Homo sapiens: one gene and its partners. The protein of the gene in region 1 interacts with the protein of each later gene in a biochemical or structural test. Each region holds a gene or a part of one and is shown in the gene's direction. Other genes may lie near its edges.

Region 1 (7,095 bases):
CCTTTCTAAACCAATCACAAGCAAAAAGGATGGAATGATCATGATTTGATTTGACCAATCAAGATTCTCCCTCTAAGCTGGGGAGAAGCTGAGCCTCTAGGGCTCAGGGTTCTCTTAGCAAAGGAAAAAGAGGGGAGATGGTTTTTGGCTGTCAAGTAGGCTGTGATATGTCCCACTTCTGCTGCCCTTTGAGACATAATCCAATAGTCAGTCCTGGGGTAAGTCGTTGCTACAGTGATGATAAGTCATTTGAGTCCTAGTCCCCAAAAGTCAGACCCAGGCTTGCTTCTCCCAAAAAAACCTGACCCTGGTTTCTTTCAACATTGCTTCTATCCCAACCCCAATAGGGTTTGTAACTCCCTCTTATTTGCCTCCATTTGCTTTGAATCCTATCTGAGCCTCAGAGGCATCTCCTGCGACAGAAATAGCTTCTTATCTGGTTCTTCCAGGGAGGTGGGCCAAGAATTACTTCCTAACTCCTTCCTGGGCTGTCCACTCACAGGGCACGTTGGCTGGGCTTTGACTGCAGACGTCAGATAGCTAGCAAGCCAGATGGCCCTGGGAGCAGGTGTGGTTGAGAGCAGAGGAAGAGAGGCTGCCCACGGGCTAGCAGGCATCAGGCACCCACAGAGGGTATATCCTTGTTGGGAGAAGAGAGACAAGGTCTTGGGAAAGTCATCATTTTTTTTTTTTTGAGGCAGTCGCACTTCATCGTCCAGGCTGGAGTGCGCAATCTTGGCTCATTGCAACCTTTGCTTCCCATGTTCAAGTGATTCTCATGCCTCAGCCTCTCGAGTAGCTGGGATTACAGGCATGCACCACCCTGCCCAGCTAACCTTTGTATTATTAGTAGAGACAGGGTTTCACCTTGTTGGCCAGGGTGGTCTTGAACTCCTGACATCAAGTGATCCACACTGCCTTGGCCTCCCAAAGTGCTGGAATTACAGGCATGAGCCACCATGCCCAGCCTGGGAGTCTTTTTTTTTTTTTTTTTTTTTTTTTTTTTTGAGACAGAGTCTTGTTATGTCACCCAGGCTGGAGTACAGTGGCACAATCTTGGCTCACTGCAACCTCCTCCTCCCGGGTTCAAGTGATTCTCCTGCCTCAGCCTCCCCAGTAGCTGGGATTACAGGTGCGAGCCACCACGCCCGGCTAGCTTTTGTATTTTCAGTAGAGACGGGGTTTCACCATGTTGGTCAGGCTGGTTTCAAACTTTTGACCTCAAATGATCTGCCCGCCTTGGCCTCCCAAAGTGCTAGGATTACAGGCATGAGCCAACATGCCCAGCCTGGGAAAGTCTTGTAACCACCTTCTTGTATACACTGTCTAGGAGTTCAAGACCAGCAACATGGCGTGACCCCATCTCTACAAAAAATTAATAGCTGGGTGTGGTAGTGCGTACCTGTAGACCCAGCTACTTGGGGAGCTGAGGTGGGAGGATTGATTGATCTGGGAGATTGAGGCTGTAGCGAGCTGTGATCACACCATGGCACTCTAGTCTGGGTGACAGAGAGAAACTGTCTCAAAAAAAAAAAAAAAAAAGTCACATGGCCACACCTCACTGCAAAGGAGGCTGGGAAATAGAGTCTTTCTTCCAGGTGGCTGTATGTCTATTAACCATGGGGAAAATGAGAGAAGGGATATAGGCGGGCCCTATCTCTATATAGGGATAGAGAGAAGGGATACAGTATTTTCTGCTCCACTGCCCTGTCAGAGACTTTAACTTAGAAGAATTTGTTAATATCACTACTGGACTCTTGCTTACTAAGGGTCTAATAGTGACACGTAAATTAAACTCTTAATAAATTAGTGACAATTGTGATATGTGCTGGGAGCCCATGTCACAGTGGTGACTGCTGATGTCTCTCCCAATCAGTCAAGTATATGAAGGACGTCTCACCGTATTTCAAGAACTCTACTGGTGGGACCTCGGTCGGCTGGGACTCACCTCCTGCCTCACCCCTTCAGCGGCAGCCTTCCTCCCCTGGCCCCACACCCCGGAACTTCAGCGAGGCCAAACACATGTCCTTGAAGATGGCATATGTCTCGAAGAGGTGCACCCCCAATGACCCGGAGCCCAGGTAAGGCTGGGGTTGGGAGCAACTCAGATGGACAGATGCCCTGGCGTCAGGTGGTGGGACCAATGGAAAGACACCTCTGTGTTGTACGAATGACCAGCACAATGCCAGGACATAGTAGGTGCTTAAAAAATAGATTGACTGGAAGCCTGAGTGAAGCCATGGAGATGATGGTGTGCTTTGCTTCTCACTTCTTCCTCTGGGCAGCTCACATCTGGGGATGAACTTGGTCTGAGGAAGAACCCTGCGTTCCAGTCCTGGTCCTCTTTGAACTAGGCCCTTTTCCTCACTGACCTTTAGATTCTCCATTGTGAGATGAGGTTGTTGGACTCACTGATCCTCTCGTCTCTTCCCACTCTGCTGGAGCTCTGAGATGTCTGGTAACCTTTTTATCAGGGCCATGGAAGGTTACATCCTTCACATCTGAGCAGCCTTTAACAGTTCATTGATAATACTGAAACCACCTAACATTTACTGAGTGTTTACTGTGTACCCAGCACTGTGTTGAGTGCTTTCCCTGTGCAATATTATTTAGCTCTCACAGAGGCCCAATGGGCAAAGTCCTATTATTTCACCTCCATTTTATTTTATTTTATTATTATTTTTGAGCCAGAGTTTTGCTCTGTCGCCCAGGCTGGAGTGCAGTGGTGCAAAGATCTTGGCTCACTGCAATTTCTGCCTCCTGGGTTCAAGTGATTCTCCTGCCTTAGCCTCCTAAGTAGCTGGGACTACAGGCGCCCACCACCACACCTGGCTAACTTTTTTTTTTTTTTTTTTTTTTTTGACAGAGTCTCACTCTGTTGCCCAGGTTGGAGTGCAATGGCATGATCTTGGCTCACTGAAACCTCTGCCTTCCAGGTTCAAGCAATTCTCCTCCCTCAGCCTCCCAAGTAGCTGGGATTACGGGCGCCTGCCACCATGCCTGGCTAATTATTTGTATTTTTAGTAGAGACGGGATTCTCCATGTTGGTCAGGCTGGTCACGAACTCCTGACCTCAGGTGATTCCCCCGCCTCAGCCTCCCAAAGTGCTGGGATTATAGGTGTAAGCAACTGTGCCCTGCCTAACTTTTGTATTTTTTGTAGAGATGGGGTTCCACCATGTTGGCCACGCTGGTTTCGCACTGCTGACCTCAGGTGATCTGCCTGCCTCGGCCTCCCAAAGTGCTGGGATTACAGGCATGAGCCATCGTTCCCGGCTCACCTCCATTTTATAGATGAGGACAGAGAGGGGAAGTAACCTACTTGAGATCACACAACCAGAAAGGGTGGCACTTGCCTCAATCCTGGTAGTCCTTTCTGCTTTGGAAGGTGCAAGATACCTGAGTGATGGTGGTGGCTAAATGGAGCATATTTGGTCAAGTGGGATATGCATTGTTGGAGGTGATGCTTAACTGCTATATGCATTACAAGCTTGGGCTGTGGGTCCTAGTGACAGCCTAGGTTCAATGCCAAGCAAATGCCCAACATTGGCTGGGAGGGCTGGTTAACGTCCAGCATCCAAATCTCTTGGTCTCACTCGATGCCACACCTCTTGCCTGCCCCCATGAGGCAAAAACTGGTGATTCACAGGTCACTTGCCGATGCTCTAAAAAAGAGCCTTTGTTTTTGTTTTTGAGACGGAGTATCGCTCTGTTGCCCAGGCTGGAGTGCAGTGGTGTAATCTTGGCTCACTGCGGTCCCCTTCTCCCGGGTTCAAGCGATTCTCCTGCCTCAGACTTCTGAGTAGCTGGGATTACAGGCACCTGCCAACATGCCCAGCTAATTTTGTATTTTTATTAGAGATGGGGTTTCACCATGTTGGTCAGGCTGGTTTGGAACTCCTGACCTCAGGTGATCCGCCCACCTTGGCCTCCTGAAGTGCTAGGATTACAGGCATGAGCCATCGCCTGTATTTTTAATAGACTAATTTTTGTATTTTTTTTTTTTTTGGGACAGAGTCTTCTCTGTTGCCAGGCTGGATGGAGTGCAGTGGTACAATCTCAGCTCACTGCAACCTCCGCCTCCTAGGTTCAGGCAATTCTCCTGCCTCAGCCTCCTGAGTAGCTGGGACTACAGGTGCACGCCGCCATGCCTGACTAATTTTTTTTTTTTTTGTATTTTAGCAGAGACGGGGGTTCACCATGTTGCCCAGGCTGGTCTTGAACTCTTGAGCTCAGGCATTCTGCCTGCCTCGGCCTCCCAAAGTGCTAGGATTACAGGCATGAGCCACCGCGCCCGGCTGTATTTTTACTAGAGACAGGGTTTCACCACATTGGCCAGGCTGATCTCAAACTCCTGACCTCAAGATCCACCCACCTTGGGCTCCCAAAGTGCTGGGATTACAGGGGTGAGCCACCATGCCCGGCCCGGAAGGGCCTTCTGTGAGTGTGAAGGTGAAGTAGTATTAGTCCTTCTAGAGACTCATAGAACCTTAGATTCCCAGCCTGATCCCAGACATTACCTGAAACGTGTGTATATGTTTCTAAGTGTGCGCACGTGTAGATGACATGTAAATGCAAGTGCTTGTATGTATATATGAGAGCATTTGCATGTATGAGTATAGATTTGTACATGTGTGTTTGTTTATATGTTATTTGTATGTGTATGCACATATGTGTGTGCATGTGTGTTTTAACATGTACATGCCTGAGTACCTACATAGGTAACCTCAATATAACTGGGGTTCCATATGGCCCACTGTCAGTGCAGTATCCCAGTCATAGGGATACAGCCTGGCAACCAAAATATAATGAAAACTGCTTCAAACTTTTACTCAGTGTTAGGATTGCACTGGGCTGCAAGTACAGAAACTCCAACAAGCAATGACTTAAATAAAAGGGGTTAATTTTCCCACATGTTTAAAAAGAAGTCCAGGGGTCAGCTATTCAGGCTGCTGTAGATGCTCAAGGATGCCATCAAGGAACTAGGCTTCTAGCTTCCTGCTCTACCATTTTAATTATGGGCGGTTTTCTTCTTCGTGGAGGCAGGATGGTGGCTGCATCCCAAGAATTGTGTTCATATTCCAGGCAGAAATAAGACAAAAGCCAAAGAGTCTTTTCTGCTAGTATTTTGGCTATCTGTTGCTGTATCACAAACCAACCCTAAAATTTAGTGGTTTAGAAAACAATAATTTATTATTTCTTTTTGAGATGGGGGATCTCGCTCTGTCACCCAGGCTGGAGTGCAGTGGTGTGATCTCAGCTCACTGCAACCTCTGCTTCCCAGGTTCAAGTGATTCTGGTGCCTCAGCCTCCCAAGTAGCTGGGACCACAGGTGCCCGCCATGACGTCTGGCTAATTTTTTGTGTTTTTAGAGGAGATGGGGTTTTGCCCTGTTGGCTAGGTTGGTTTTGAACTCCTGGCCTCAAGTGATCTGCCCGGCTCAGCTTCCCAAAGTGCTGGGATTACAGGTGTGAGCCACCATGCCTGGCCTCAAGCCTCTTTAGTTTTGTTGTTGTTTTGTTTTTCTGTTTTTTTTTTTTTTTTTTTTTTTTTTTGGTTTTTGAGACGGAGTTTCGCTTTTGTTGCCCAGGCTGGAGTGCAATGGCACGATCTCAGCTCACTACAACCTCCACTTTCTGGGTTCAAGCGATTCTCCTGCCTCAGCCTCCCTAGTAGCTGGGATTACAGGCATGTGCCACCACACCCAGCTAATTTTGTATTTTTAGTAGAGATGGGGTTTCTCCATGTTGATCAGGCTGGTCTTGAACTCCCTACCTCAGGTGATCCACCCGCTTTGGCTTCCCAAAGTGCTGGGATTACAGGCGTGAGCCATCACACCCTGTCTGTTTTTCTGTTTTTTTAAGATGAGGTCTTGTGCTGTCATCTAGGCTGGAGTGCACTGGCACCCTTATAGCTTACTGCAGCCTCAAACTCCTGGGCTCAAGTGGTTCTCCTGCCTCAGCCTCTAAGTAGCTGGGACTATAGGCACGTGTCACCATGCCTGGCTAATTAAAAAAAAAATTTTTTTTTCTTTTTTAGAGATGAGTGTCTCACTTTGTTGTCCAGGCTGGTCTCGAACTCCTGGGCTCAAGCCATCGTCCTGGCTCAGTCTCCCGAAGTTCTGGGATTACAGGCGTGAGCCACCATGTCCAGCTTAGTTTTTTTTTTTTTTTTCCCCTGCTCTTATTAGTGAATTAGTTTGGTTCTGTGCAACAAGGAGAACCTGGGAGCTGGCCCAGAAGAGGATGTTCCTTAGAAACCAGGAGAAAGGGGCAAGATTAGGAATAGCCACACAGCAATAATTTAGGCCCTATTACACCATCATGCATGTTTCAGTGTGTGTGTATATTTGTGTGTATCTGCATACGTGTAGGCTGGGCACGGTGGCTCATGCCTGTAATCCCAGCACTTTGGAGGGCGAAGGCGGGGTGATCATTTGAGGTCAGGAGTTCGAGACCAGCCTGGCCAACTTGGTGAAACCCCATCTCTACTAAAAATAAAAAAATAAGGCCAGGCATGGTGGCTCATGCCTGTAATCCCAGCACTTTGGGAGGCTGAGGCAGGCGGATCACGGGGTCAGGAGATCGAGACCATCCTGGCCAACATGGTGAAACCCCATCTCTATTAAAAATACAAAAATTATATGGGTGTGGTGGCGTGTGCCTGTAATCCCAGCTACTTGGGAGGCTGAGGCAGGAGAATCACTTGAACCTGGGAGGCAGAGGTTGGGCCATTGCAGTGCAGCCTGGGTGACAGAGCGAGGCTCTGTTTCAAAAACAACAACAAAAACCCCACAAAATATATGAACACGTGTGTATATGTCACACTCGCTTGTTCCTATGCCCCATGAAGCCCCAGCAACTGTGGCTGGAGCCCAGCAGTGAGGGTTGCTCCTGATTCTCTCACGGACATCCCCCTGGTTTCTCCTGGTTTGGTGGTGGGTGGGGTTTCTTGGGCCAGGGTTGGGCAGCTGCAGCCTAATGGTCAGGTCCTTGTCTCCACCCATTTGTGCCTGCAGGTATCTGGAGATCTGCTCGGCAGATGGTCAAGACACCCTCTTCCTGAGGGCCAAGGATGAGGCTAGTGCGAGGTCGTG
Region 2 (7,000 bases), on another chromosome or scaffold:
AAAGGAAACTGTGGCCCAGCCAGGCACAGGGACTTGTCCAAGGTCACACCGTGTTCTGTAGAGACCTGGGCTTCTTGCAAGTGCTCTCAGGCCCCAGACAAGAAGCAGCAGAGGCCTGTGTTGGCCCCTGGTTTTCCCCAGGTGTTTGACTGTGGGTGGAAAGTATGAGAGCCCTGGGCCCAGCCCTGCTCCTGACCAGCTGTGTGATCTTGGCCAAGTCACTTCCTCTCTCTGCCCTCAATCTTCTCATCTGTGGCCAGGCAGGCCTATCTCTGCCCTGTTTTATGCCACAGCTGCCAGAGAGCCCTGGACACTGTAGAGGGCTGTGCACGAAGGTGTGATTGGCATCAGGATCAGGAGCCGGAGCAGGTGAGCACCTTGCTGCTGCAACTGGCCAACTCTGAGATCAGAAAGGGAAAAAAGGAAAGAAATCTCTAGTTTGCAGATCGGAGGTCAGAAAAGCTGCCTGTGGCTTATGCTATGTGCAGAGCCTGAAACACTGGCCCATCCGCCTGCTGTCCCACTGCCCTCCTCTGCCTTCCCCCTGCCCAGCCACAGGTATGGGTCAGGAAACCCATTAATGCATTAATTAACCTAAAGATCACCTGATGGGGGCAGATTTCTGGGCCCTACCTTGATGAATCAGGAGGTCCCAGGGGCTACATTTCCACAGGTACCCCTGGGTTTTCACCCATTTCACTCCGCACCCTGGGGAGCTGAGGTGCTTAAGAGTGGGCTTGGTGGAGCACATAGGCGCTCAGAGCTGGGGGTGGCCTAGACACCATGCTGTTCTGCCTGTACCTGTCACACGTGGGGAAACTGAGGTCTCCAGCCTAGTGGGTGACTGAATGAGACTGAAACTCATTTCCTCTCCCCACCAGTCCCCTACCAACCCCTAGCCCCTGGCTTCACCCTGCACAGCTAAATCAGGCCCTCCTGAGGACCGATGAACCCTCAAATCCAAAACAAGGCCATCTTCTCAGCAGACAGCTGGGAGCCATGCTCCAAGGGCACTCTCCAAGACCCCATCTCTACAAAAAATTTAAAAATTAGCAGGGTGTGGTGGCATACTCCTGTCGTCCCAGCTATGCAGGAGGCTGAGGTGGGAGGATCGCTTGAGTCCGGGAGGTCAAGGCTGCAGTGAGCCGTGATTGTGCCACTGCACTCCAGCCTGGATGACAGAGCGAGACCCTGTCTCAAAAAAAAAAAAAAACCGTTTAAAAAATGGGTTATGCTATGGAAAACTCCTGGGACCTCCTGCTGGGCAGTGTGGCTTCGGCTTCACCCCGGTCTTCACTTGACAGTCTGGATGGAGGCGGCGGGAGGCAGGGGGAAGCGGGAGTGACGGTAAAAGCCTTAGAAGTGTCATTCACAGTCTAGGAAATCTCTGCAGGGTCAGAGAGTTCCAGATATGTGGCCAGAGACCACGGCTGGCAGGACCAGGAGGGCAAGTGACCAGGCCCGAGCAGGGGCCACAGCTCAGGTTCCTAAAGAAACAGAGGTCCCTGGGTATGGGGGAGAGTGTGTTGGTCTGAGGGTCAGGAGAGCTGGGTCCCAGGCCGGCTCATCACTGGCGAGTGACCTTGGAAAAGCTGTGTAAGCCCTCTGGTCCCAAGCTCTCCCCTTGTGAGAGGGGTCAGTGATCCTGCCCCCCAGTGTCCTTGGTGAGGGCAGCTTCTCCTGCCCACTGCCCCTTGGGGTGAAGGGTCAGAAACACTGCAAGTCTCAGGAAGTAGCAAGGAGAGCAACTGCAGGGACAGCCCGTTGTGTTTGTTTTCTGTGGCTGCCATAACAAATGACCACAGGCTAGGTGGCTTCAAACAACAGACGTGTATTGTCTCCCACTTCTGGAAGCCAGAAGTCTAGAGTCAGGAGCCAGCAGGGTTGGCTTTTCCTGGAGAGGCTGAGGAAGAGCCTGTCCCTTGTCTCCCTAGCTACGGGCAGTGGCCAGCAACCCTTGCTCTTCCTCACCTTGTGGCTGCGTCACACCCATCTCTGCTTTCATCTTCACCTCACTCCTTCCTGTGTGTCTCTCGGTGTCCTCTCCTCTGCTTCTAAAGACATTGGTCATTGGATTTAGGGCCCAACCTAGACCCAAGATGATTTCATCTCAAAATCCTTAGCTAATTCCATCTGCAAAGATCCTATTTCCAAACAAGGTCACATTCTGAGGTTCCAGGTGGGCATGAACTTTGGATAGGACACCGTTCAACCCACTGCAGTCACTAAGATTTATGAGGTGTTTATTGCTCATAAGACCTGCACACAGTCTTATCTCTTCTTCACCATCACCCATTTTCCGGATTACAGAAACCAGGGCCCAGAGACATTAAGAATGTGCCCAAGTCAGGCCAGGCGCAGTGGCTCATACCTGTAATCCAAGCACTTTGGGACGCCAAGACAGGTGGATCACCTGAGGTCAGGAGTTCGAGACCAGCCTGGCCAACATGGCAAAACCCCGTTTCTACTAAAAATACAAAAAAAGTTAGCCGGGCCTGGTGGTGCATGCCTGTAATCCAGCTACTCAGGAGGCTGAGACAGGAGAATCATTTGATCCTGGGAGGTGGAGGTTGCAGTGAGCCAAGATGGAACCATTGCACTCTAGCCTGGGTGACAGAGTGAGACTCTATCTCAAAAAAAAAAAAAAAAAAAAAAGAATGTGCCCAAGTCACACAGCAAGTGAGGGGCAGAGCTGGGATTTGAACCCAGGTCCCTGGTGCTCCTTCACCTTTCCACCTTTTTGTAGCTGGCTGGGGGATGCCCAGAGACCCCTTAGGGCCCACAGCTAGGAATCCATGGGGCAGGAATTCCAGCCAGCCCTATGAAGACCCCAGGTCTGCAGGGGCTCCTGGGCACCAGAGAGAGGCTGGAGACAGGCAGGGGAGCTTCAAGGTGTGAAGGGGCCCAGCCGTGGTCCCAGGAGACCAACATGTGGCAGAGGATTGAGAGCCACAGTTCCTTGTCTCTGCCACTGACTCTGTGAACGTCATTGTGCTCTTCCGGAGAATAGGGGCAGCAGCACTGACTTTATGGGGTAATTGCCAAGTACCGAAATGTTCATCATAATAGTACTAATCGCTAAAATGTGTCCGCAAGCACTTTACAAATGCTTTTTGTTTTCCCATGTAATGCGTGGGAGGGGAATTGCTTATTCAGTCATGTGCGTTCGGTTGTGTGTGGTTGAACCAGTGACTTCGCCTCAGTTTGCTCCTCCGTAAACCAAGGGTTAGCTGAGCACCCATCTTCCCGGTTGTCACGTGAGGCAAACAGGATCCAAGTACAGGGCTTGGCCCGGGTGTGGTCCAGGTAGAGGCTCAGCGGATGTTTTCTTGCCTGTAAGATGGGATAGTGGTAGTATTATGATGATGCTATTATTTGTTGTATGAGGATTTGGTGAAGTAATGCAAAGGAAGCACTTGGCTCAGGGCCTCGCCAGAAATTGATGGAAAGTGGCCTCCTTTGTGGCATCAGAAAGATTTGAGTATAAATCCTAATGCCAGTGTTTACTACTGTGTGACCTTGGGCAGGTAGCTTTGCTTCTCTGAGCTTGACATCCTGATATGCAAAGTGGAGTGGGAAAAACCTGCCTCACAAGATTGTGCCACGAGATGATGGGTAGGTAATGTCTCAAATGGAACCCTCATCATGCCAGGCATTCGAAATATGTTGAGCTTCTGCCCTGCTTGTGGGCATCTTAAAGATGTCCCCAGAAGGGGCACATCCTAGTCCAAGGAGGGTGGATTTGATTTGGGAAAATTGGGAGCAGTCGTGCCATAGTGGAGCATATGGGATTGGTGGAGCCTATGGGAGAAGCAGTGAATGGATGACACCGTTTGGGGTCCAAGCACCATGTAGCTTTGAAGGAAGAAAGCAGGTCTCTGCAAGCTTCTGTGCTGCCTCTGAAGGCAGTTTCCTATAAAGTGGTGCCTTTCCTGTGCCGGCTGGGCTACTCTACCGGGCCATGTCTGGCTGCCCCGGGACCATTTTGTGGGAGCCATGGGGGCGTCATCTGGATGAACTCATTCTAGCCCAGCTCTGTCAAACACCTGCCTTGCAGGCCCAAGGGAGCTGTGGAGGCAGTGGGCGGGGAATGCTGTGGCAGCCATTTGGGGTGCCTCCTGCATGCCTGAGGCATCCACGCTGAGTGAGGCCCCCAGGCTCATCCGGAGCAGAGGGTGCTGGCCTCCAGCTCACTGATCCTTCTGAAGTTTTTTGATCTGTGCCCATGGGCAGGGCACGCCATCCTACGTGGGCCTGACTTAGCGTTGATGTAGCGCAGTAGTTGAGGACAACATCTGGGCCCAGGCTGCTTGGGGTCACATCCAATGCCTGGCCGCTGACCAGCTGCATGTCCTTAATCTCCAAGCCTCCGTTCCCTCCACTGTCAAATGGAGATGACAACACTGCCTGCCTCATCAGGCCGTTGTGTCGGAGACTGAACTGTGCGGATTCCAAGATATACATTTTGACATTTCTGAAGCCAGGTTGTGCCTGACAACTGGTGTTACACCACAGTGGAACCAGCCATGCCTTTTATTTCTTAAATATACGTAAAGTAGTGATACAGGTTAGAGTCAAGAAAATATGATAAATAAGATCAGTTTTATAAGGGGCTCAGAACAGAGCCACCAGGCTGGTGGGAAGAAGCCAGGATTGCCACCTGCCTCCCCAGCTCAGTTGCGGTGAGTCCCTCACTGGGTCCTTTGTGTCCACTCTGAAACAATCAGCAAAAGAACACCTGCTTGCCGGAGCAGCTGTGAGAAGTCGGCAAACTTTTGTGTGTATTACGTGACCAGCAGAGTCCCCATATGCAGTAGGTGCTTAATAAATGGCCGTGCAAAACAAACAGCAAAGACCGTAGTACAAGGAGGAATTTAAAGCATAGACTCTGGGATTCTAATTCCTGCTCCACCATTTCCATGCTGTGTGACCCAGCACAAGTTTCTTAATTTCTCTGTGCCTTAGTCCCACCATCTGTAAAATGGGGATAACAAAAGTGTCCAATTCATAGGATTGTTGTGAGGATTAAGTAAAATTAAAGTGCTTAGGACAGCCCTTGGCAGAAGTGTAAGCAATTATTATTTGATGAACTTTAATGAGTCTCTTCTAGTTCAATAAATGATACTAAAATAAACACTAGGCTCAATAAAATAATAGCAGTTGAGGCTGCACTTGCTTTATAGCTGAGAAAACCAAGGGCCAAGAGGCATGCTGGTTTGCCCAGGATCACACAGCCAGCTCCCAGCAGACTGGAACCACAGCCCAATGTCCAGGCACCAGCCCAATGCTGCCTCTTTGCCCATGTTGGTTCAGGACTCTTTCTCTTATGGAGAAAGCAGTTCTTGCCATGGAGAGGAGGGTTTCTAGAAGAAGCCACCAGCAGATACATCACCAGTGCTTCAGGGATCCACAGGGTAATTAGGGCCCTCATTAGAAGTCGTTTCTGTCTTCCCTCAATTTTCTGCCTGACCACCACAAACAGTGGAAGGGGCCTAACTGGGATGCCCACCCTGCCCACAGCTGCCCAAGGTCAGCAGAGCCTGCCAACCATCCTGCAAGCCCACCAGCCAGCACTCTCCTGGCCTCCAAGTGGCTTCTGCAGAGTTGACACAGCAAAATTCCCTCCTGGAGACAGCAAAAGCCGTGGCTGGCCCGTTGGTCCAGCCACCAGACAGGCTAGGGCCACAAAGTGGATTGGAGTTGGGGGGAGGACAAAGACCTGGGTGCAGCCAGCCATGACAAGCACTTCAAGTGACCTTGGACAAGTCACAGTCTCTTTCTGAGCATCAGTTTCCCATCTTTGAAACAAGCCTTTTGGAGCCAGATGGGCCCCCTGAGACTTTAAATGTCTAAAATTCGAAGCTGCCTGGACATTGCTGATGTCCAGGTCACGGGGGAAGGGGCGGGGTTGGAGGGGTGGAGCTAGTGTCTGCGTGTGGAGTGCAATGTGTGTGGATCTTGGGTTGGACTCACTAGGAGCAAGCATGAGACAGCGCTCAGGAGAAAGGGGCTGAAAGGAAACAAGGTAGGGAGAGAAAGAGATAAACAAGCGTGTGGCCTCAGCTGATCCCTTGGGGGATGTGGGGCATGAACTGCGCCCCAGGTTTGGCTCTGCCTTGAAGCAAAAAAGCTGGCCTTTCATACCCCATATCAGATAGTTATTGGCCACGGCTGCCTTCTGAGTGGGATGCTGTGTGCAATTGCCCGGGCAGGAGCTCCTGTTCTTCCCAGGGCAAGCCTGCAAAGAAGGGGCAGCCGGGAGCTCTAGCTCCCAGCAGCTGGGGTGTGGAAGCTGCAGACCGGTAAGGAGGACTAGGGTGGGCACCAACAGTGTCCACTCTGTTATGTGGATTTGGGATGCAAAGGTTGCTGGGTGCCAGTCTCTTCCTAGCAACTATCTGAAGGCAGCAGATTAAGAGCTCTTTAGGCCACTTCTAAATTTATCAACTTACATGACTCACTTCAGATTAAAATGAAGCCCTTCTCCCCATCCCACCCCCAGCCAATTTCAGATTTCTGAGCTCAGAGCATCCTGAAGAGGGCATAGAATGCAAATCAATAAAACCAGTATTAGCTAAGTATTTGGTGTGGACCAGGCTGTTTGTCGGGCTCCTTGCTGAGCTCAGAGATGAATCAGCTCCAGAAACAACTCCTGCTGGGAGGCGGAGGCAGCCCCAGGTAGAAGGTGGTATACGACTGCGGGTGCCCTGCCTGGGGGCTAGGCCATGAATAACTTCCAGGACCAAGACTCAGCCTCACCACCACAGTATTTAGAGCTTCCAGAGCCTCAGTTTCCTTATCTACAAAATGGGGTCAGTGTGGTGAAGAGTATGTGGCCTGGGCCACTCCTGCACTCAGGGAGTAGCAATAAAATTAAGCGAGACCTGGCACTGGGACCCAGGGCTGTTTCTAGGCACTTCTCTGCCCTCTCAGAGGCCTGAGTCTGCCCCATGACCTCAGGGGAAGGAAATTCTGAGCTGAGTGGAGACATCAGCTTCCC
Region 3 (7,551 bases), on another chromosome or scaffold:
TGGGAAGGGAAGCATGGATTTTGGGGGACACTAGAAGAAAGAATCAATAGCATTTGCCGCTGATTGGATGTGAACAGAGGGAAGAGAAAGGGATGACTCAGGAGAAGCTTCAGTAGGAAGTGTGTTGTGGGGAGGATTTAGAAGCAGGCATGGACTTTGTTGGAAAGTGTTTGCAAATGGAAAGATTTACATATCTATCAGCAGGAGTGTGCTCTCAACTGATTATCTTATAAAAGCTGTGGAGTTTCTTTATGAGATAGTCAGACAAAAAGTATCACACGATTTAAAATGGCAATACCAGGGAGCAACTCCTGGCTCACACAGGATGCAGTCTGGAGAATGCACTCTGCTCTAGAGTTACAACCCTGGGCTGAATCTCAGGGTTTTTTGTTTTTTTTTAACATGGTTTCATTGTATATATTTGGACAAAATACTTTCTAACTCATCGATCCAGTTTCCTTATCTTTAGGTCTCCATGAAACAAAACAGCCATATTTGTTGAGTGCTTTATTATGTTAAGCAGGCTTTGTGTTAAGAGCTTTATTTGGCCGGGCGAGGTGGCTCACGCCTGTAATCCCAGCACTTTGGGAGGTGGAGGCGGGTGGATCACAAGGTCAGGAGTTCAAGACCAGCCTGGCCCAAATGGTGAAACCCCGTCTCTACTAAATATACAAAAATTAGCCAGGTGTGGTGGTGGGTGCCTGTAATCCCAGCTACTCAGGAGGCTGAGGCAGGAGAATCGCTTGAACCCGGGAGGTGGAGGTTGTGGTGAGCTGATATTGTGCCACTGCACTCCAGCCTAGGTGACAGAGTAAGACTCCGTCTCAAAAAAAAAAAAAAAAACTTTATTTGTGGCCGGGCATGGTGGCTCAAGCCTATAATCCTAGCACTTTGGGAGGCCAAGGTGGGCGGATCACTTGAGACCAGGAGTTCAAGATCAGCCTGGCCAACATGATGAAATCCTGCCTCTACTAAAAAAATACAAAAATTAGCCAGGCGTGGTGGTGCACGTCTGTAGTCCCAACTACTCGGGAGGCTGAGGCACAAGAATCACTTGAACCTGGGAGGTGAAGGGTGCAGTGAGCTGAGATCAAGCCATTGCACTCTAGCCTGGGCAACAAAGTGAAACCCTGTCTGAGAAAAAAAAAAAGACTTTATTTGCAACTTTTTATTCTTAGAATGCACATTCTACATTTAAAAAACATTTCAATATTTTGTGGCTTAAAGCAATATCCATTTTATTTGCTCACAATTCTGCAATCTGGGCTGGGCTTGGCTGTGCAGCTCTGCTGGTCTTACTGGTGGTCACTGATGTGTTTGCAGTCAGCCGGTGGGGTTGGCTGAGGCTGGGCTCAGCTCAGGTGCTGGGCAGCTGGACTTTTCCCTCTCTCCAAGTATCTCAGGGCCTTTCCTTCTCCATGTGGTTTATCCAACAGGGTAACTGGACTTCTTACTTAGTGGCTCAGGTCTCCTAAAAGTACAAAGTGGAAGCTTCCATACCTTCCTAGGGGATGGGATGGGAAAGGCAGGGAAGTGGCACAACTTCACTGCCACATTTTCCTGGTTAAGGCAAATCACTGGCCCAGTCCAGATTAAGTGGAAGGGGCTACGTAAAGGTATAAATAACATGAGGCTGGGCCATTGAAAGGCAGCAACGCAGCAGAGAGACTACCACAATATTATTTCCAATTTGTAAATGAGTAAACTGTGACTTAGGAATGCTAAGCTACTTGCATAATGTAGCAGATAGAGCCAGCTTCAAATATTGTGTTCTAAATCAAATATCAACAAATAAAATGTGTATGTGTTTTCACCTAGAATCCTGTGGGGTGGGTACTGTTATTGTCCCTAATTTACAAAGGAGGAAACCCAAGAATAGAGAGCTTAAATGTCTTGTCTGAAGTGACTCAGCTGTTTTGTTCCAGAAATTATACACTTATCCACTGTGCTGCCTCTTACGGGCAGTACCTGATACATACAAGACATCTGTAAATGTTATTTAATCTGAAGCTGTTGTTGGAATGGCTGGGACAACAGCAAATCTTTTGAATTATTCACTATTACATCTTATATGCTATTTGGGAACTGGGAGTTTTTCAGTTATCCTGTGTTAAGGGCAATTTCCGTTTCATACATCTACTTTATCTGTTGCACTATCTATTTCTTGAAGCTTGGAAAGAAACGAAGACTGCATCCTTGCCCATCCAGTTCCAACCCAGATTCTCACTGCCCATCTAATTCCAACCCTGATTCTCACCTTTCTTCGGGAGTGAGGACTTTCCTAGAGTAGGGCTGGCCTCAAGTTTTCATCTTTTAATCATCAAGTCAGCCTTGTGACTTCTGAATTAGTATCATTAGGTTCCAGTCACTTCCTCTTGTTCGATAGCTTATTTCCCCTGTTGTTGCAACTGTGATGGCTTCTGAGAGTAGCTTGCAAAGATTCTACTTTCCAAGGAGTGACCTGTGCTAGTTTCCCCTTTCCTTTTGCCAGTCCTATGGGCAGAGGACTTGCTGCACAGAATCCCAGCTACTCGGGAGGCTGAGGCAGGATAATTGCTTGAACCAGGGAGGCAGAGGTTGCAGTGAGCCGCGATCATGCCACTGCACTCCATCCTGGGCAATAGAGTGAGACTCCATCTCAAAAAAAAAAAAAAAAGGATGATACGTGTATGCCTGCCTTAGTCTAAGATGGCCCTAATTTCTTCCAGTCTATGAGGAGTCTGGAATTGGAGCCACCTCCAAGTACAGATAACAGGGGAAGTGGCTCACTTTGGTGGTTCTGTTTTGGATATGGATGCAGCCATTCAGGGAGTGGCCCCAAAATTCTACCTTTTCCGAGGCAAAACTATGAGTGGCCTTGTCTTTTCCTTAAACTTTTCTCCTCCAAGGCAGCTCCAGATTTTAACTTCGACTTTATTTTACCCTGTAAAAATATTAAGGCAGGCTGGGCGCGGTGGCTCATGCCTGTAATCCCAGCACTTTGGGAGCCTGAGGCGGGCGGATCACCTGAAGTCAGGATTTGAGACCAGCCTGGCCAACATGGTGAAACCCCATTTTTGCTTTTAAAAAATACAAAAATTAGCTGGGCGTGGTGGCAGGCGTCTTAATCCTAGCTACTTGGGAGGCAGAGGCAGGAGAATCGTTTGAACCCGGGAGGCGGAGGTTGCAGTGAGCTGAGATGGAGCTATTGCACTCAAGCCTGGGGGACAAGAGGGAGACGTCACTCAAAAAAAAAAAAAAAAAAATTAAGGCACAATACGTGAACTTGAAGAACATACAGTTCTCTTTTATTTAACAAACACTTACGTAACCAGCCCGGTGCTGTGCGAAGTGCTTTACATTGTCTCGTTTGATTTACTTAATAAACTCCTATTTGAATCAAATGGGGTGGAGTAGGGGCTTCCTGGAATTTGGCTTACCTCGCCATCTCCCCCCACCCTTTCCCCTCAGTGGAGAGGCAACCAGAGAGAAAAGAAATTGAGCTGCTCTGAAGGGCAAGGCCTCCTCCTACTTCCCGCAGCTGTTTCGCCAGACTTGACCTTCTTCCCTTAGCTAGAGGCAGGGGGTCTCCATCCCTCGCCCAGATCTAGTTGGTGGGAAGGTGGGTGGCTTTTTTCGGGTCACTGGCGCACCCTCTCTACTTCCAGCCACCTGCTCGGGTTCCATCCCGGCTCCAGGCTCCCCGGAGGGCGGCAGGGACATTCCAATCCTCCCACAACCCTCACGGATGTTGCGGGGGAGGGGGGTGCAATTGCTCTTCTCTTCCAACACCCAGCTTTTTCTTCTCAATCTCTAGTGGCCTGAGTCACCCCCGTAGAGGAAATTAAGGATTGATGAATGGTTTGAAAGTTGTTTGTTTACAACCCACCCGTTGGCGAAGCCGCATCTCCAGTGACAGAGGCACTTTCTGGGCACCGTCTGTGCTCTAGCAGACAATTGAGAGCCAGGCAGCCAAGATGCCTCCTCGCCAGACCAAATATGGTCACAAGAGCTAAGCAGCCTCTCGTGGAAAAGCTGGCCTTGTTGGTGTCTCCCCGCGCCGGGGCGCACCCGGGCCGGCCTTCGGGCAGAATCGCGGGTCAGTGCGGCGCTCCGGGTGCTGCAGGCCTCGGCGCCTGGCTGCAGGGGAGGGCGCGGTGTCCAGGACCGGCCCTTCCTAGGCCTGAGCCCCTCATCCGCGTGCCCTCCGCCACCCCCGGCCTTGGTTTCGGTCCACAACCCCTTGATGAAACAGGCTCAGGCCACTTTCCCTTTGATCCCGCCCCAAGTCCGTGGTAAACTCAAAGGAATGCAGATGCAGGTCTGAGCGGGAGAGGTCCGCGCGGCCGGGAGGAGTGGGTGGGGGGCACCCGTCTCCTCTTACCCAGTAAAGTACCCATCACGCCCAGGGTTTTCTGGAGCCGAGGTGGGAGGAGGAGGAGGAGGAAGAGGAGGGGCGAGCGGGGGCTGGCCGGCTAGGGACTAGGAGGTCATACATAATTCAACAGCTCAACTTTCGGGCCCGCCTCTTTCCTGGGGGTGGGAGTTTGCTCCAAACTTTGTTTATGGGACAGTCCGGGAGCTGCTGCGGCCGCGCTGTCTGCTTCTCCTGCGCCTCCTTTTCGCCCAGCACTAGCGCCTTAGGCCAGCTCGGGGGATGTGAGAGCCGAAGCCCTTAGACTGCCAGGCACAGAGTCGGGTCGGGATTTGTCAGCCAAGCCTCGGCTCCAGCTCCGCAATCTCGGGACTCACCCGAGCGACCCAGGCCCGACGGCAAGTTCGGGCGGGACGGCGGCCGCCGCGCGCTCAGGCTCAGCTTCGCTGCCCGCCCAGGTAGTGCCCGCTGGAGCTCGCGCGCTCATCCGGCACCACTCCAGGGCTCCAGGCTCCTCGGGCTTCCGGAGTCGAGACGTGGTGGAGTTGGCTCGGGCTGAACTTCTTTCGGGGGGCTGCCTGTCCTGGAATCGTGCGACCTTTCCTTTGCCATCCTGCGGTTCAGCAAGCCCCGAGTGCAGTTATTCCCTCCACCCCTCGCCCTATCTTCTCCTCCTCCAGGCAACTTCTTTGCTTCAAGAAAGTTGCATAATTCTCGAGGCCAGGAGGGACCCCTCCCCCATCCTGCTGGTCTTACCGCTGAGTGTCTGGGATCTCCAGGCGGGCAATTATCTGTCTCCTCGTTTCCTTTTCCCTCTATTCTTTCTCCCACCATCTCGCCCTCTCACCCTGTAACCCTCTTACCCACTTCCTCCGACTTTAAATAAAAGGCTGATCTGACCTTCTTTTTGCAGAAGATGAATCCGGCCTCGGCGCCCCCTCCGCTCCCGCCGCCTGGGCAGCAAGTGATCCACGTCACGCAGGACCTAGACACAGACCTCGAAGCCCTCTTCAACTCTGTCATGAATCCGAAGCCTAGCTCGTGGCGGAAGAAGATCCTGCCGGAGTCTTTCTTTAAGGAGCCTGATTCGGGCTCGCACTCGCGCCAGTCCAGCACCGACTCGTCGGGCGGCCACCCGGGGCCTCGACTGGCTGGGGGTGCCCAGCATGTCCGCTCGCACTCGTCGCCCGCGTCCCTGCAGCTGGGCACCGGCGCGGGTGCTGCGGGTAGCCCCGCGCAGCAGCACGCGCACCTCCGCCAGCAGTCCTACGACGTGACCGACGAGCTGCCACTGCCCCCGGGCTGGGAGATGACCTTCACGGCCACTGGCCAGAGGTACTTCCTCAAGTAAGTCAGCCTGGAGCCGAAGAAGGCACCAAGTCACAGTGCCCAACGCGCGCGTGTGTTCGTGTGTGTGTGTGTGTGTGTGTGAGAGAGAGAGAGAGAGAGAGAGAGAGAAAGAGAGAGATGGTGCGTGTCCTTCCACGGTTATTTCACAGATATGGAGAGCTGGAAGCAGGGAGTGAGTCTCTGAGTGTTGGAATTGTAAGGGATCAGAAGCAGGGATCAGAAGCAGTGGTGAAGTTCATCCACCATAAAACACACAGGTGACTTTGCCTTGAATCTGCAGGACTGAAGCCAACTCTTGGGCACAGACCCTTAGTCCCTTCCTTGGCCACTCTAAGTCAGATAGTCCAGAGCCAGGCCCTTTGGGATGTGACACCGAGATAAATCAGAGAAAAGCTGTGAAGCTTGGGGAACAGAGGGACTTTTGGTGAAGTAGGTGGTCTGCAGTTTCTATCTTCTTGGGAAAAGCAAGCTGGAAAAGTGAACAGTGGTTGGTAGGCCATAGTGCTCCCAGCTGGGTGACATAATGACCACACAGCACAGTGATGTTATTAGCAACTGTGTGGTGGAGTAGTTGTGGGCTGGACAAATCAATCGTGTGGAAATTGTTAGGAGTTTTATTACATTAAACTTGTTAACCTAAAATACCATCAAATCACAAGCCTGCTTTGTCACTCTTCTTCCTTTCACATTGTTCCAGCTTTTTGATGTCATGAATTTTACATTAGTTGAAATTTTCAAATTACACCCCACAGGAAAATATATTCTCAAACACTAGAGGAGGTTGTTTCAATTGTGGTACCCTAAGATAACTACATTCCTCAGGAGAAACCAGGCTGGAACTTGAAATGTTCCATTGAGGTCATAGGGTCAGGCTATCAAAGATGGAGGTTGTGCCAGCCTAACCACTTGTTTCAGGATTGCCTGCACTGCCAGTGAGGGAAACTCCTCTCCTAAGAACTTGACTTAGACTTCATTTTAAAGCCCATATTTCTTTAGTAGAGTAGCCTTAGTGCAAAAGTGAAGACACTATGTACAATTTTAAAAGTTTAATCAAGCCTTTCTTTGGCACTAATATTTGATGCTCTGATTGCTATGAGAGAGCCCTAAGAATGAATACACAGTGATGGATGAAGTTTACTATAGTGAGCCCATTGATTCATACCAGTGACCAATTCTTATTACTTCCCCATCTCAAGGCTGTTGATATCTTGTCCAAGGAGTTCTTTTGTTGTTTCTGAGATTGGTGTAATGCTGAGATTCTGAAACAGACTTGATGGTCATTTATGCCACAGCTGGTCTTCTCTGGGTTATTGAGTGATAGTTTGGACATGTGCTCAGTCCTTTGACTTCTAAGTAGCTGGTGGAGTCAAGAATATGATGTAATAACATGACTTTTGTTGTTGTTGTTTGTTGTTTGTTTTTGTTTTTGAGACAAAGTCTCACTCTGTCGCCCACGCTGGAGTGCAGTGGCACAATCTCGGCTCACTGCAACCTCCGCCCCCTGGGTTCAAGCAATTCTTCTGCCTCAGCCTCCTGAGTAGCTGGGATTACAGGCACCCACCACCACGCCTGGCTAATTTTTGTATTTTTAGTAGAGACGAGGTTTCACCATGTTGGCCAGGCTGGTCTTGAACTCCTGACCTCAAGTGATCTGCCTGCCTCGGCCTCCTAAAGTGCTGGGATTACAGGCTTGAGCCACCATGCCCAGCCCTACATGATTTCTTTCTTTCTTTCTTTCTTTCTTTTTTAGATGGAGTCTCGCTCTGTCGCCCAGGCTGGAGTGCAGTGGCGCGATCTAGGCTCACTGCAAGCTCCGCCTACCGGGTTCACGCCATTCTCCTGCCTCA

What was found. Proteins that work in one complex are often made in the same cells at the same time.
Region 2: the proteins of SNTA1 (region 1) and ATP2B2 interact in a test that uses a peptide from one of them, tested with the Homo sapiens proteins (one study listed by BioGRID).
Region 3: the proteins of SNTA1 (region 1) and WWTR1 interact in a test that uses a peptide from one of them, tested with the Homo sapiens proteins (2 studies listed by IntAct, with this or other methods).

What each region holds. Positions count from the first base shown.
Region 1 is NC_000020.11:33,412,705-33,419,799, reverse strand, and holds part of SNTA1 (alpha-1-syntrophin), read left to right. Parts: intron 1-1,876; coding exon 1,877-2,081; intron 2,082-5,165; exon of another isoform or gene 5,166-7,017; coding exon 7,018-7,095. UniProt on the Homo sapiens protein: Adapter protein that binds to and probably organizes the subcellular localization of a variety of membrane proteins. May link various receptors to the actin cytoskeleton and the extracellular matrix via the dystrophin glycoprotein complex.
Region 2 is NC_000003.12:10,495,587-10,502,586, reverse strand, and holds part of ATP2B2 (plasma membrane calcium-transporting ATPase 2), read left to right. Parts: intron 1-7,000. UniProt on the Homo sapiens protein: ATP-driven Ca(2+) ion pump involved in the maintenance of basal intracellular Ca(2+) levels in specialized cells of cerebellar circuit and vestibular and cochlear systems.
Region 3 is NC_000003.12:149,655,026-149,662,576, reverse strand, and holds the start of WWTR1 (WW domain-containing transcription regulator protein 1), read left to right. Parts: upstream 1-4,551; 5' UTR 4,552-4,812; intron 4,813-5,267; 5' UTR 5,268-5,270; coding exon 5,271-5,701; intron 5,702-7,551. UniProt on the Homo sapiens protein: Transcriptional coactivator which acts as a downstream regulatory target in the Hippo signaling pathway that plays a pivotal role in organ size control and tumor suppression by restricting proliferation and promoting apoptosis.